Linked DNA regions of Homo sapiens: region 2 is linked to region 1. Evidence: fine-mapped expression QTL. A gene starts in region 1. The other region holds a variant in brackets. All regions are shown on one strand. Distances are from middle to middle.

Evidence for each region.
Region 2: its variant is fine-mapped to the expression of FOXJ2 in whole blood (TOPMed, PIP above 0.99). The same link has a PIP of 0.9 or more in monocytes, monocytes after LPS, monocytes after Pam3CSK4 and monocytes after R848.

The regions. Positions count from the first base shown.
Region 1 is chr12:8,030,511-8,035,885 of GRCh38, forward strand. FOXJ2 (forkhead box J2) reads left to right here and starts at 2,206. Exons shown (of 11, transcript NM_018416.3): 1 at 2,206-3,323. RefSeq lists silencers at 1,891-2,040, 2,061-2,300.
Region 2 is chr12:8,055,437-8,060,811 of GRCh38, forward strand. It overlaps C3AR1 (complement C3a receptor 1), which reads right to left. Exons shown (of 2, transcript NM_004054.4): 2 at 1,408-4,759. The coding sequence starts at 4,749. The coding sequence ends at 3,301. It overlaps FOXJ2 (forkhead box J2), which reads left to right. Exons shown (of 11, transcript NM_018416.3): 11 at 1-81. Among named protein-coding and RNA genes, the nearest start is that of C3AR1, 8.2 kb to the right of the region's middle. The variant A/G (reference allele first, on the strand shown) is at 2,605.

The DNA of each region.
Region 1 (5,375 bases):
AAAGAGAGGAAAAATACATCTTTAAACCTGAATATAGGAAGTGTGAGCAGGAAGAACAGGCTTGTTTTGGTTTACTGCCTTTAATTTTGAGGATGACTTTAAATTCTGATCGCTCCGGACAATGGTATAGAAGTCAAGAGCTGGGCATCGGAGTCATTTGGATTTAAGTCCTGACTCTGCTACTTACTAATTAAGCGAACTCACACATAGTATCTGTAAGTCACAATTTTCTCATCTGTAAAAGAAGTATAATAATAGTGTCTTAGGGAATCGCTAGAATCATCAATGTGACAACACATGCAGAATGCTCAGTGCAATGCCTGGCATATTGTAAATATAATTATTCATATAATATATACATACAACTTAAGTATGCAGTCTTTTGGGGGCAATTCAAATATTTTGCAAGCAATATTTTTGTATTCGTATTATCTTTTTTTTTTTTTTTTTTTGAGACGGTGTCTCACTGTCTCCCAGGCTGGAGTGCAGCGGCACGATCTGGGCTTACTGCAACCTCCGTCTCCCAGTTTCAAGTGATTCTCCTGCCTCAGCCTCCCAGGTAGCTGGGATTACAGGCACGCACTACCACGCCTGGCTAATTCTTTTTTTTTTTTTTTTTTTTTAGACGGAACCTGGCTCTGTCGCCCAGGCTGGAGTGGAGTGGCGCGGTCTCGGCTCACTGCAACCACCGCTTTCCGGGTTCAAGCGATTCTCCTGCCTTAGCCGGCACTACAGGCGTCCGCCACCGCGCCGGGCTAATTTTTGTATTTTTAGTAGAGACAGGGGTTTCACCACGTTGGCCAGGCTGGTCTCCAATTCCTGACTTCAAGTGATCCCCCCGCCTCGGCCTCCCAAAGCTTTGGGATTACGGGCGTGAGCCACTGCGCCTGGCCTCCTATTATCTTATGTGCTATAAAGTAGAGAGTAGGCCGGGCCGTGTTTCCTGCCTGTAATCCCAGCACTTTGGAGGCATAAAAAGGGAGAATAGTTTAAACCCAGGAATTAAAGACCAGCCTCGGCAGCATACTGAGACCCTGCCTCTATTTAAAAAGAAGAAAAAGATAAAGAAAGAAAGGAAAGAAAGTAGGGTAGTTTGATAAAAGTTTAAAAAGCCTGAGTATGGGCCGGGCGCGGTGGCTCACACCTGTAATCCCAGCACTTTGGGAGGCCGAGGAAGGTGGATCACGAGGTCAGGAGTTCGAGACCAGCCTGGCCAACTTGGTGAAACCCCATCTCTACTAAAAATACAAAAATTAGCCGGGCGTGGTGGCGCGCGCCTGTAATCCCAGCTGCTCCGGAGGCTGAGGCATCCCAGCTGCTGGGGAGGCTGAGACAGAAGAATCGCTTGAACCCGGGAGGCGTAGGTTGCAGTGGGCCCAGATCGTGCCATTGCACTCCAGCCTGGGCAATAAGTGAAACAACACCTCAAAAAAAAAAAAAAAAAAAAAAAAAAAGCCAGAGTATGAAATATATGAGAATTTGCAGCAGAATAATATGACTTCAGGATGTGACAGCTGTAAAGGGTAAGCAGGCCAAGTATCAAGGTCCCTTCTTCGCTGAGCAAGATTGCGGAGAACAAGGGCCATGCACAAGTTTAGGAAGCTGAAACAAGGAACAGGACCCAGATCTTCTGATGTTTATTTCACCGTTACACGCTCATTTATCATGTATCCACTCATTCAAGGAGCATTTACTGAATTCCAGGATGATATAAGGGTAACATATAAACTTCACCCCAATCTTCACCTCAATGCTCATGATCCTTTATAAATTATCTCGAGGGAAAGAGAAGCCCATCAAAGACAGTCCTGAGAAAGCTGGGGCTGTTCATCTGTATACGGAGTTTAACAGAATGAAACGCCGGAGTTGGGGTGTCAGCTGGAATTGACGGTATACGGTGCGCACTAGGGACTCTCCCGACGGGGAGCAGTGAGTTGTCATCCCGGGTAGACGGCGAACTCCCGGAGCCACGCGGCCGCAGGTGGGCGAGGGCGGCGAGATCCCTCGCCGGCGTGAGAGCGGCCGTGGCTCTCCAGGCGGAGCGCACACCGGGTAGCGAGGCTCGCGGCTCGGCGCTGCCCGCGGCTCGGCGTCTCCCGGCTCCTCCTTAACCCGCGCCGGGAGGCGGTGGCGGCAGCGGCCGGCGGGCGGGGGAGGGGGAGGGGCGCGGAGCGCGGCGCGGAGGCCGGGGAGGAGCCGGGGCCTGCAGCGGAGCCGAGCCGAGCCCGAGCCCGCGCCGAGCCCTGACACTGTCTGCCCGCCTTCTGGCTCCCCGGGAGCCCAGACTGGTCGGAGCCCGAGCGGTGGCAGCGCGGGGAGCCCCACGCGCCGAAGGGAGCGGACCCGACAGGACGGCCCTAGAGGAGGTGCTGCCGCCACAGTAGCAGGGACCGGAGTCTCGAGCCGCGGCCTCCCGGACCGTGCTGCCCAGGCCAGCTCAGGGACAGCCGGGAGTACGAAAGCCCCACCCTCTGGGGCACCCCGGGAGCGGAGGCGGGAGCGGGGACGCGAGCAACCTCTCCCCCTGTTGGAGAGAAAAGACCCTTACCACTCGGGTGAGGGAAAGAAGAGACCCCTGGAGGGGACGCCTCTCTCCTGCCTAGAGGCGAGGAAGACCCCTGTACTGGCCGGGGAGGAGACCCCCAGAAGTGGAAAGAAGGGAGCTTTCCGTAGGGAAGCAGAGTGAGACCACCCTAGCGCGCCCCCGCCCCTCCAAACACACACTCTCAACAGTTCAGGACTTTGGAGGCAAAGAGAGACGGGGCTGTGCCTGTGGAGTAGGCACCCTCGGCCCACCACTATTCACAGGAGACAGGAGTCCTTACGTTCAGAAGCCACTCCAGGGAAAGAAGAGGAATCGGCTTTCAGCCTTCTGGAGAGGGGAAGACCTCCCCCTCAACTTCCTCGTGCCTAGACAGTGGAACGGGGTGGAGCCCCTCCGCTCCTATCTCCAGCAGACAGAAAGAGCCCTCCACCTCAGAAAGATCCAGTTTGGGGGGGAGGGGAACTCCCCCAAGGGGGAGGAGACAACTCCTGGTTGGGAGAGGCTCCTCCCCTCCTCCCCCGGGTAACAAGCAGGGTGTGGGGGGTGTGCCACCTTCCCCAAGTAGGACCTCCTTCTCCTCCCCCTCCCCCTCCTCCAACCTTGACTCCTCATCCTCAGGGGACCCAGTTCCCCTCACCAACTTGGGAGGCTCAGCCTCGTCCAGGAAGAGCCACTGAGGATGAGAGCCGTCACCTGCCTCTGAAGAGGGGAATCCCTCCAACCCCAAACTCCAGTACCAGGTGGTTCCCTCCCTTTGCCGGAGGAACCTTGGAGACAGGTTAGTGCTTTCTTTCATCTTCTCTCTGTCATTGTCTGGCACTAGTGGGTGTAGGGGGTTGAGCTGGTGGATCGTGGGTTTCACTGCCGGGGAAGACAGAGTGATGACTCAGAAAATCCAATGGGAAATGTGATCCAAGGGAGCTCCTGGATTTGAACCCACATCTTGCTGCAGAAGCTCTGAGAAATGGGTTTCTTAGTGTTTGGGGACTAAAGGGATGGGATTCATTTTAGGTCCCTTAGGGAAGTGGATGTTTTCATGCTGAGGAAAAGGGTTATCGGAAAACAGCTGCATTTTGAGAACATGCATACTGTGTAGCAGTGATTTACACAACCCAACCAGTGGTAAGATTCCCATACCACCCTTCACCCTTGGGCCTTTTCCCCTGGAGAGTGGGCTGTCATGAAAATCACGGTGGCATCTGGGGTCCTGGCCTTGCCCAGGGCATGCCGAGGTCAGCTTAGTGTTCACCAGAGGTGTTCCCTCCAGCTTACTGCAATTATAGCTCCCTTGACAAGAAAAGCAATCTGTTCCTGCTCATCCTATCTCAGATACCAAGAGGCCTCCTCTCCTGACATTTCCATTCCTAGCTGGATGTATGCCTCTGCCCATAAAATCCAAAGGGAAAATGGGAATCCCACATGTTCTGAGGCGAGAAGAAAGTGTGCAGGGGAATGCCAACTCCCGGGTTAAAGTGCTTCCTTGATGCTGGCCCTGAACCACTGCCCCAGTCCCCTTCTCGACTCCTGTTTTTTGCTCACAATTCTTCAGGAAAAATTAGATCCTGGATACGAAGGGAGGAGGGCTGCTGCTCCGCTTCTGTCCAGACTTCCAGTTAAACAAGTTGACCACTGGAGAGATTTCACTTCTGAGGAGTATATAAAGTTTCCTTCCAGAAAAGTACCTAATAGTCTCATCCTCTCCCTTCCTGTTTCTTGTTCAGTTCTGAGTCCCTCGAACCTTGTGTTAAAGTTTTCCTTCATAAGCTAGGGAATTATCAAAGTCCAGAATCTTCAGAAAAGGCAGGAAAAGGGTACCAGGAAATCCTCCCCTGAAGCCTAGGCTGTTTTTAGGAGAGGTCACTAGCTGGTTGTCTGCTTTCCTGCCTCACCATTAGCAGATACCTTATCTTCTGTCTCACAGCAAGGACAAGTTGTGAAGGAGGCTTCATCTGACTTGGCCTTTCATATTTCCTCCTCTCTCTGGGGCATGGGTGAGGTCTACCTAAATTCCTGAGTACAGTCATTTGTCCTGGAAGCTACTGGTGGTATATGAGATAGGGCACAGGTTTGTGTGGCTGTGCTATAGGACAACATGCATATACTTCTTAATTCATGTGAATGTGGCTCTCTGTTTCAAGTGGGTATGTGTGTGGAGACAGGTACTTATGTGCTTTTCAGACTATACTCCAGTTACCTAGAATTGTATGTTTCTGGTGGGCCTCTAGAAGCAGGTGCCTCTGTACAAGGACATGGATAGGTGGTGGTAAGGATGGCCACCTGAGGGGAAAGGCTTGGCCTCCCCCCAGTCAATGGGAGCCCTCGTGACGGTCTACAGGACAGTCCTTTAAGCAGCAGGGCAACCCAGTCTCAGGCTGGGATCATTTCTTCTAGGACTAATAAGAGAGCTTCATTGCTGATACCTCTGGTCTCAGAAGGATGAGGATCCTTGACTCCTAACTCCAGAACTCCTTCCCCTACCTTTTACAAAAGAGGCCTCGCTGGTTAACAGCAGCCTGTTTCTTATAAAGTACTTCACCAGATGCTGGCGTGCACCTGCCTGAATGGCTCAGGGTGAACTATATCACAACATCTCCAAGTACACCACCGCCACGCAGTTTAACTGGCCCTGCTTGGACTGAGTTCCCTAACCCTGCTTGCTTCTCTGGAATCAGTTAGAAGTAGGTGGCTACTGAGTGGGATTAACTGTGGTTTAGAGAGTGTGCTTTCCCAGACCATGTCTTATGACTACACCTAGTTCCCCCGGGAAGATAAGAGATGATAGTTCCTCATTCCTTCATCCTTAGAGTCTTCCTGATCCTAGCATTAGCCA
Region 2 (5,375 bases), 25 kb after region 1:
GTATATGGTCTCACAAGTTGTTGTCATTGTTTTTTTGCATGCTTTCTTAATAAAAAAAAAAAAAGAATGTTTACAGTTTTATCTTACTGGTAGTGGTCTCAAGTTTCTTTTGGCCAGGGAAGGAAAAGAGAAACGTGAAAGAATTTAGTCTCAGTTCGTCTTTATTCCTCTTCCACCTTCCACCACTGGGTTGAATTAGTTGACCCTGACACGTTTTGTGACCTTGGTGGGAAAGAAGAATCAAAGGCACGTCCTTAACGTGCCTCTTTTCAAATGCTATCAAGTATGATGACATATTGCGGGAGAGTCAGTCACCCCTTGTAGGTTGGTATATGGAGTAGGCCCACCTTGCTTGCATTTTAGGATAGTTTAAAGATTTAAGATATTATACTTTGGGGCTGGGCGTGGTGGCTCATGCCTATAATCCCAGCAGTTTGGGAGGCCGAGGCAGGCAGATCACCTGAGGTCAGGAGTTCGAGCTCAGCCTGACCAACATGGTAAAACCCCGTCTCTACTAAAAACACAAAATTAGCCGGGCGTGGTGGTGCATGCCTGTTATCCCAGCTACTCTGGAGGCTGAGGCAGGAGAATCGTTTGAACCTGGAAGGCGGAGGTTATAGTAAGCCAAGACTGCACTGTTGCACTCCAGCCTGGGTGACAAGAACGAAACTCTCTCTCAAAAAGAAAAGATATTGGTTGGGCGCGGTGGGTCACACCTGTAATCCCAGCACTTTGGGAGGCCGAGGTGGGCAGATCACAAGGTCAGGAGTTCGAGACCAGCCTGGCCAACATGGTGAAACCTCATCTCTACTATAAATACAAAAATTAGCCGGGTGTGGTGGCAGGCGCCTGTAATCCCAGCTACTTGAGAGGCTGAGGCAGAAGAATTGCTTGAACCCGAGAGGTGGAGGTTGCAGTGAGCTGAGATCGTGCCAAGTGTGCCACTGTGCTCTAGCCTGGGCTACAGAGTGATACTTCATCTCAAAAAAAAAAAGAAAAGATATTATACTTTGGACAGGAGCTGTGTTCCCATCTGGGACTTCCTGGAGAAGATACAGTACAAAATAGTTACAGGTACTCACCAGGTTTTCATCAGAAATGAGGGAGCTCTAATTGTAGGAATTTCTTCAGAATACATTTCCAAAGCAAATGGAAAAGAAAAGGAGTCCAGAAATGCTGATTACTCGTTGTACATTAAATCTTTATAACTGCGTCAAGATTATTCACCTTGATATCCTATACACTAACCCCAGGAGTTTAGGTCTTATTCCCAGGGTCTTATGGGATGTGCTGGGGTTTCTGGAAGCCTGGCTAATTGCTATTATAGCAAGTCTATAGTCACTCACTAGGAGACTTATTTGCTGCATATTTAGAGATGTGATATATTCTGAATGTGAAACAAAAGGATTCATAAATCTCTGAGCCTCGCAAGGACCCATGAGAAAAAAAGCATTTATTCATATCAAATATATAAGCAAATTAATATATAAGCTGGAAAGGTAGCACTTCAAATCTTATGTCAGACATTCTTCACAACTGAAAGAATTCCTAGTGATTTGTAATTTTTCTGCATATACTTTATAAAAAATCTGTAGTCCAGACCCTCACCTCAGCCATTGAACAGATAGTGTCTTGCAGGTCTAAAACACATGTCATTTTCTGTTTTTAGACTACATCATTGTATTTGGTTTAGATGAGGCCACGTTGTGATACAAACAAGCCAGAAATTTCAGACGTTTGACACAAACATTTATATATACAGAAAAATGAGAAGGTGGTAGGGAGTTAGGTAATTTTGTTTTAAATGAAAAAGGGACAGAAGGAAAGCTATATAAATGGTTGGAGTGTATAGACAAAGTAGAAGAAAAATATGTGGTCATGAATGAATTAAAATATGGTTATTAATGAATGTTGGGATGCTGGATAAACAAATTAAAAATATGGGGTGCTTGGATAAACATCTTCATCTTTCAAAACAAGAAGTCGTTTTATCATGCCTCCAGAAAAGAGCAGCATAAGCACATGATTTAGAAACATCATGATAATTATCAAAGGAAACATCTAAAATTGTGCAAGGATTATCTCTGGGAAATGAGAGTGGGAGGAGGGAACTTTTGGGCACAGTGAGGTAGGAGACCTCATATTTCATTATATACCTTATTAAATTATTTTAAAACTATGTGCATGTATTACTTTGGCAAAGAAAAGGATTTAAAAAACCCAGAAGATATATTTGGTAATTTTGGCATGTAAGTTGCCTGTCGTCATGTTTTAAAATGTGATGGCAAGCCTGGTAGGGTACTCAGTTGCAGAGAGTAGAAGAATTGCTGCTCCATCCTCCACCCTCTTTCTCCTTCCACTTGAAATACTTTCTTAGAAAGTATTCATTTGGAGCAAGAGGAAGGGAGTAACTAGAATCTTACGAAATTAGAGGTTGTTTGAGGCACAAAGTCTGATGTGGAAGATTTGGAGGCTGGGGAGTAATAAGGAAATTAAGGAGCTTAGGAAGAGGAGTGGAAAATAGGTGCCCAACCGGTAGGCAGTTAGAAGAAACAGAACTCCCCAAACCACAGCTTTCATAACATTTCATGAGTCAGTTTTCAC[A/G]CAATAGATGCTTATTTAGTTGTAATAGTGGAAACTCTATGTAATAGTGGAAATTTCTATATCCTGTACCCAGGGGTGTTCCCAGGGACAGGCATCATTGCATAACCCTATGCTCCAGACTCAGTCTCATGGCTTCTTGTCTTCACAGGCATTTTCTTTTTGCACTTTCTTTTCGTTTAAAACCATCAACACCACACGACAACAAAGCATTAGGATATATGATCATCTTTCACTCACGTAGGAGAACAAGAAATGGTTTTAAATGGAATCTGGAAGACTTAGACAATGCTAAGGAAAAATTTAATGATGGAAATATCGACAAATATTCAACATCATTTAAAAACAAAGTAGCTTCTCTTATTTCACATAGCTTAGTTTGGGATAGAAATAGAACTAATGTTTACAATGATTCTTACATTTAGCATTAATCAGAAACGAGGGTTTGTTAAGTGCCCTTGCTGGGTCCCAACCCCCAGAGATTCCGATTCAGCAAGTCTGGGATGCGGCTTGAGAATTTGCATTTCTAACAAGTTTCTAGGTGATGCTGATGTCAATAGTCTGTGTACCGTTTGAGAACCGCTGGATTGATTCTTTGACAGTTTTTGAAGTCCGCTGCTCACCATATCACTTCATCCTCTTATAAACTTTCACTATGTGATTGCCTAAGAGCCCCTGCTTGTTGGCTGCTCCACATTTTCACACAGTTGTACTATTTCTTTCTGAAATGACATTGTTTGAGGGACAGTGGGTGGAACGTGTGAGCTCCTCACTGAAGGCTGCCTCCAGAATTCCCTGAATGGACTGCCTTGCTTTCTTCCTAAAATCTTTCCCCAAGAGGGCATAAAGGAAGGGATTAAAGCAACTATTGGCAGATGCTAGAGCAATGCATACATGATCCCAGGACATCAGAGTTTTCCCCAAGGGAGTTTCTGGGTCAGTAAGCAATGACAGGACTCCAAAAATGTGGTATGGAGTCCAGCAGACAAGAAAGACAGCCACCACCACCACGGCCACTCGAAAGGTTTTGCTCTGAGACTTGGCGAAGCGGCCCCTTTGCATTCGGAAGACAATGAAGCTGTAACAGGCTATCATGATAACAGAGGGCAGCAGGAAACCCACCACTAGCCTAGTGATCGTTATTGCCACGAGGGGTGTTGGCACTTGATCGTCATCTGTGAATTGGCCTAAATTGTAATAATCCTGGAAACCTTGTGGTAGCTCAGACTCGTAGAAGGAATTGCTAGAAGCGCTAGGGAACAGCTTTAAATGAGTAGAGAGAAAAGCATCAGAGTTATCCAGTGGGCTGGTTTCGTGATCTTCAATAGGAAACCCACTGGGGATTTTAGGTGAGACCACATCAGCAGGTTTAAATACATTAGAATACAGATTTTGACTTGTTAACCTAGCAGAACCCCTAGGGAGTGAATCTGCAGAAGGTCTTTGAAATGTTTGAGGTTGGAAGACAGTGGGGACTGTCCAAGGATGATCATTTGTTTGGAAAGAGGAAGGATCTAACCTATCATTCATTTCTCCAGGCGGCTGAACAATGTTTTCAAGAGACCTGTTTTCTAGTGGATCTCCATAAAAGTCTGGATAATCTAATGAGCTGGAGAGACCAAATTTGTAGCCACATCTATTATGGTTGTCTGTAGTGAAGATTTCCCGGTACACGAACACAGGAATGCACATCACAAAAGCCACCACCCAGATACATCCACAGATAGAGCAGGCCATCCCTACATTGCGATGATTCTGACACCAGATTGGCTTGAATACCACAAGACAGCGATCCAGGCTAATGGCAGTAAGCAGGAAGACACTGGCAAACATGTTGAGGACAATGATGGAGGGGATGAGCTTGCATAGGAACCTGCCGTAGGGCCACTGTCCCTGGAGAGCCAAGTGAGCCAGCGAGAAGGGCAAGGAGAGGCAGCAGAGGAGGTCCGCCAAGGTGAGGTGGAGGAACCAAATTGTGTTCACTGTCCGCTGCATCTTCAGGCCAGCCACCCACAGCACCAGCCCATTGCCTGGCAATCCCAGTAAAAAAGTAAGGCTGAGAATGACCATGGAGAGAATTACTGGGGGCTCATTCCATGGCTGTGAGAGTAGGTCAGTTGAATTGGTCTCAGCAGAGAAAGACGCCATTGCTAAACTTCTGCAAAAAGATGAAAAAAATGTTAAAACAAACAGTATCTTTTTGAAAATGCATACATATTCTTAGGATTCTAATCTTCCCACATAAAGATGTGGGATCATGAAACCAGAAGGTCCTCACGCTGTTTTAGTTTGCCTTCCTTCACCTCACACGGGACCACATAAAAGCATTCTCTGATAGACAATTATATTTATTTATTAATTTATTAATTATTTTTCAGACAGAGTCTTCCTCTGTCGCGCAGGCTGGAGTGCAGTGGATTGATTTCAGCTCACTGTAAGCTCCGCCTCCCGAGTTCAAGCGATTCTCCTGCCTCAGCCTCCAGAGTAGCTGGGATTACAGGCGTGCACCACCACGCCTGGCTAATTTTTGTATTTTTAGTAGAGACGGGGTTTTGCCATGTTGGCCAGGCTGGTCTTGAACTCCTGACCTCGGGTGATCTGCCTGCCTTGGCCTCCCAAAGTGCTGGGATTATAGGCATGAGCCACCATGCCCATCCTATGATAGACAATTTAAAATCTACTGTATTGATTTATGTGTGTATCAAAATCACAGCCTCATCTGGAAGTCCATATTAGTGTAAATTTCTCCTCTTTCTTGTACTTTCAATCTTGGT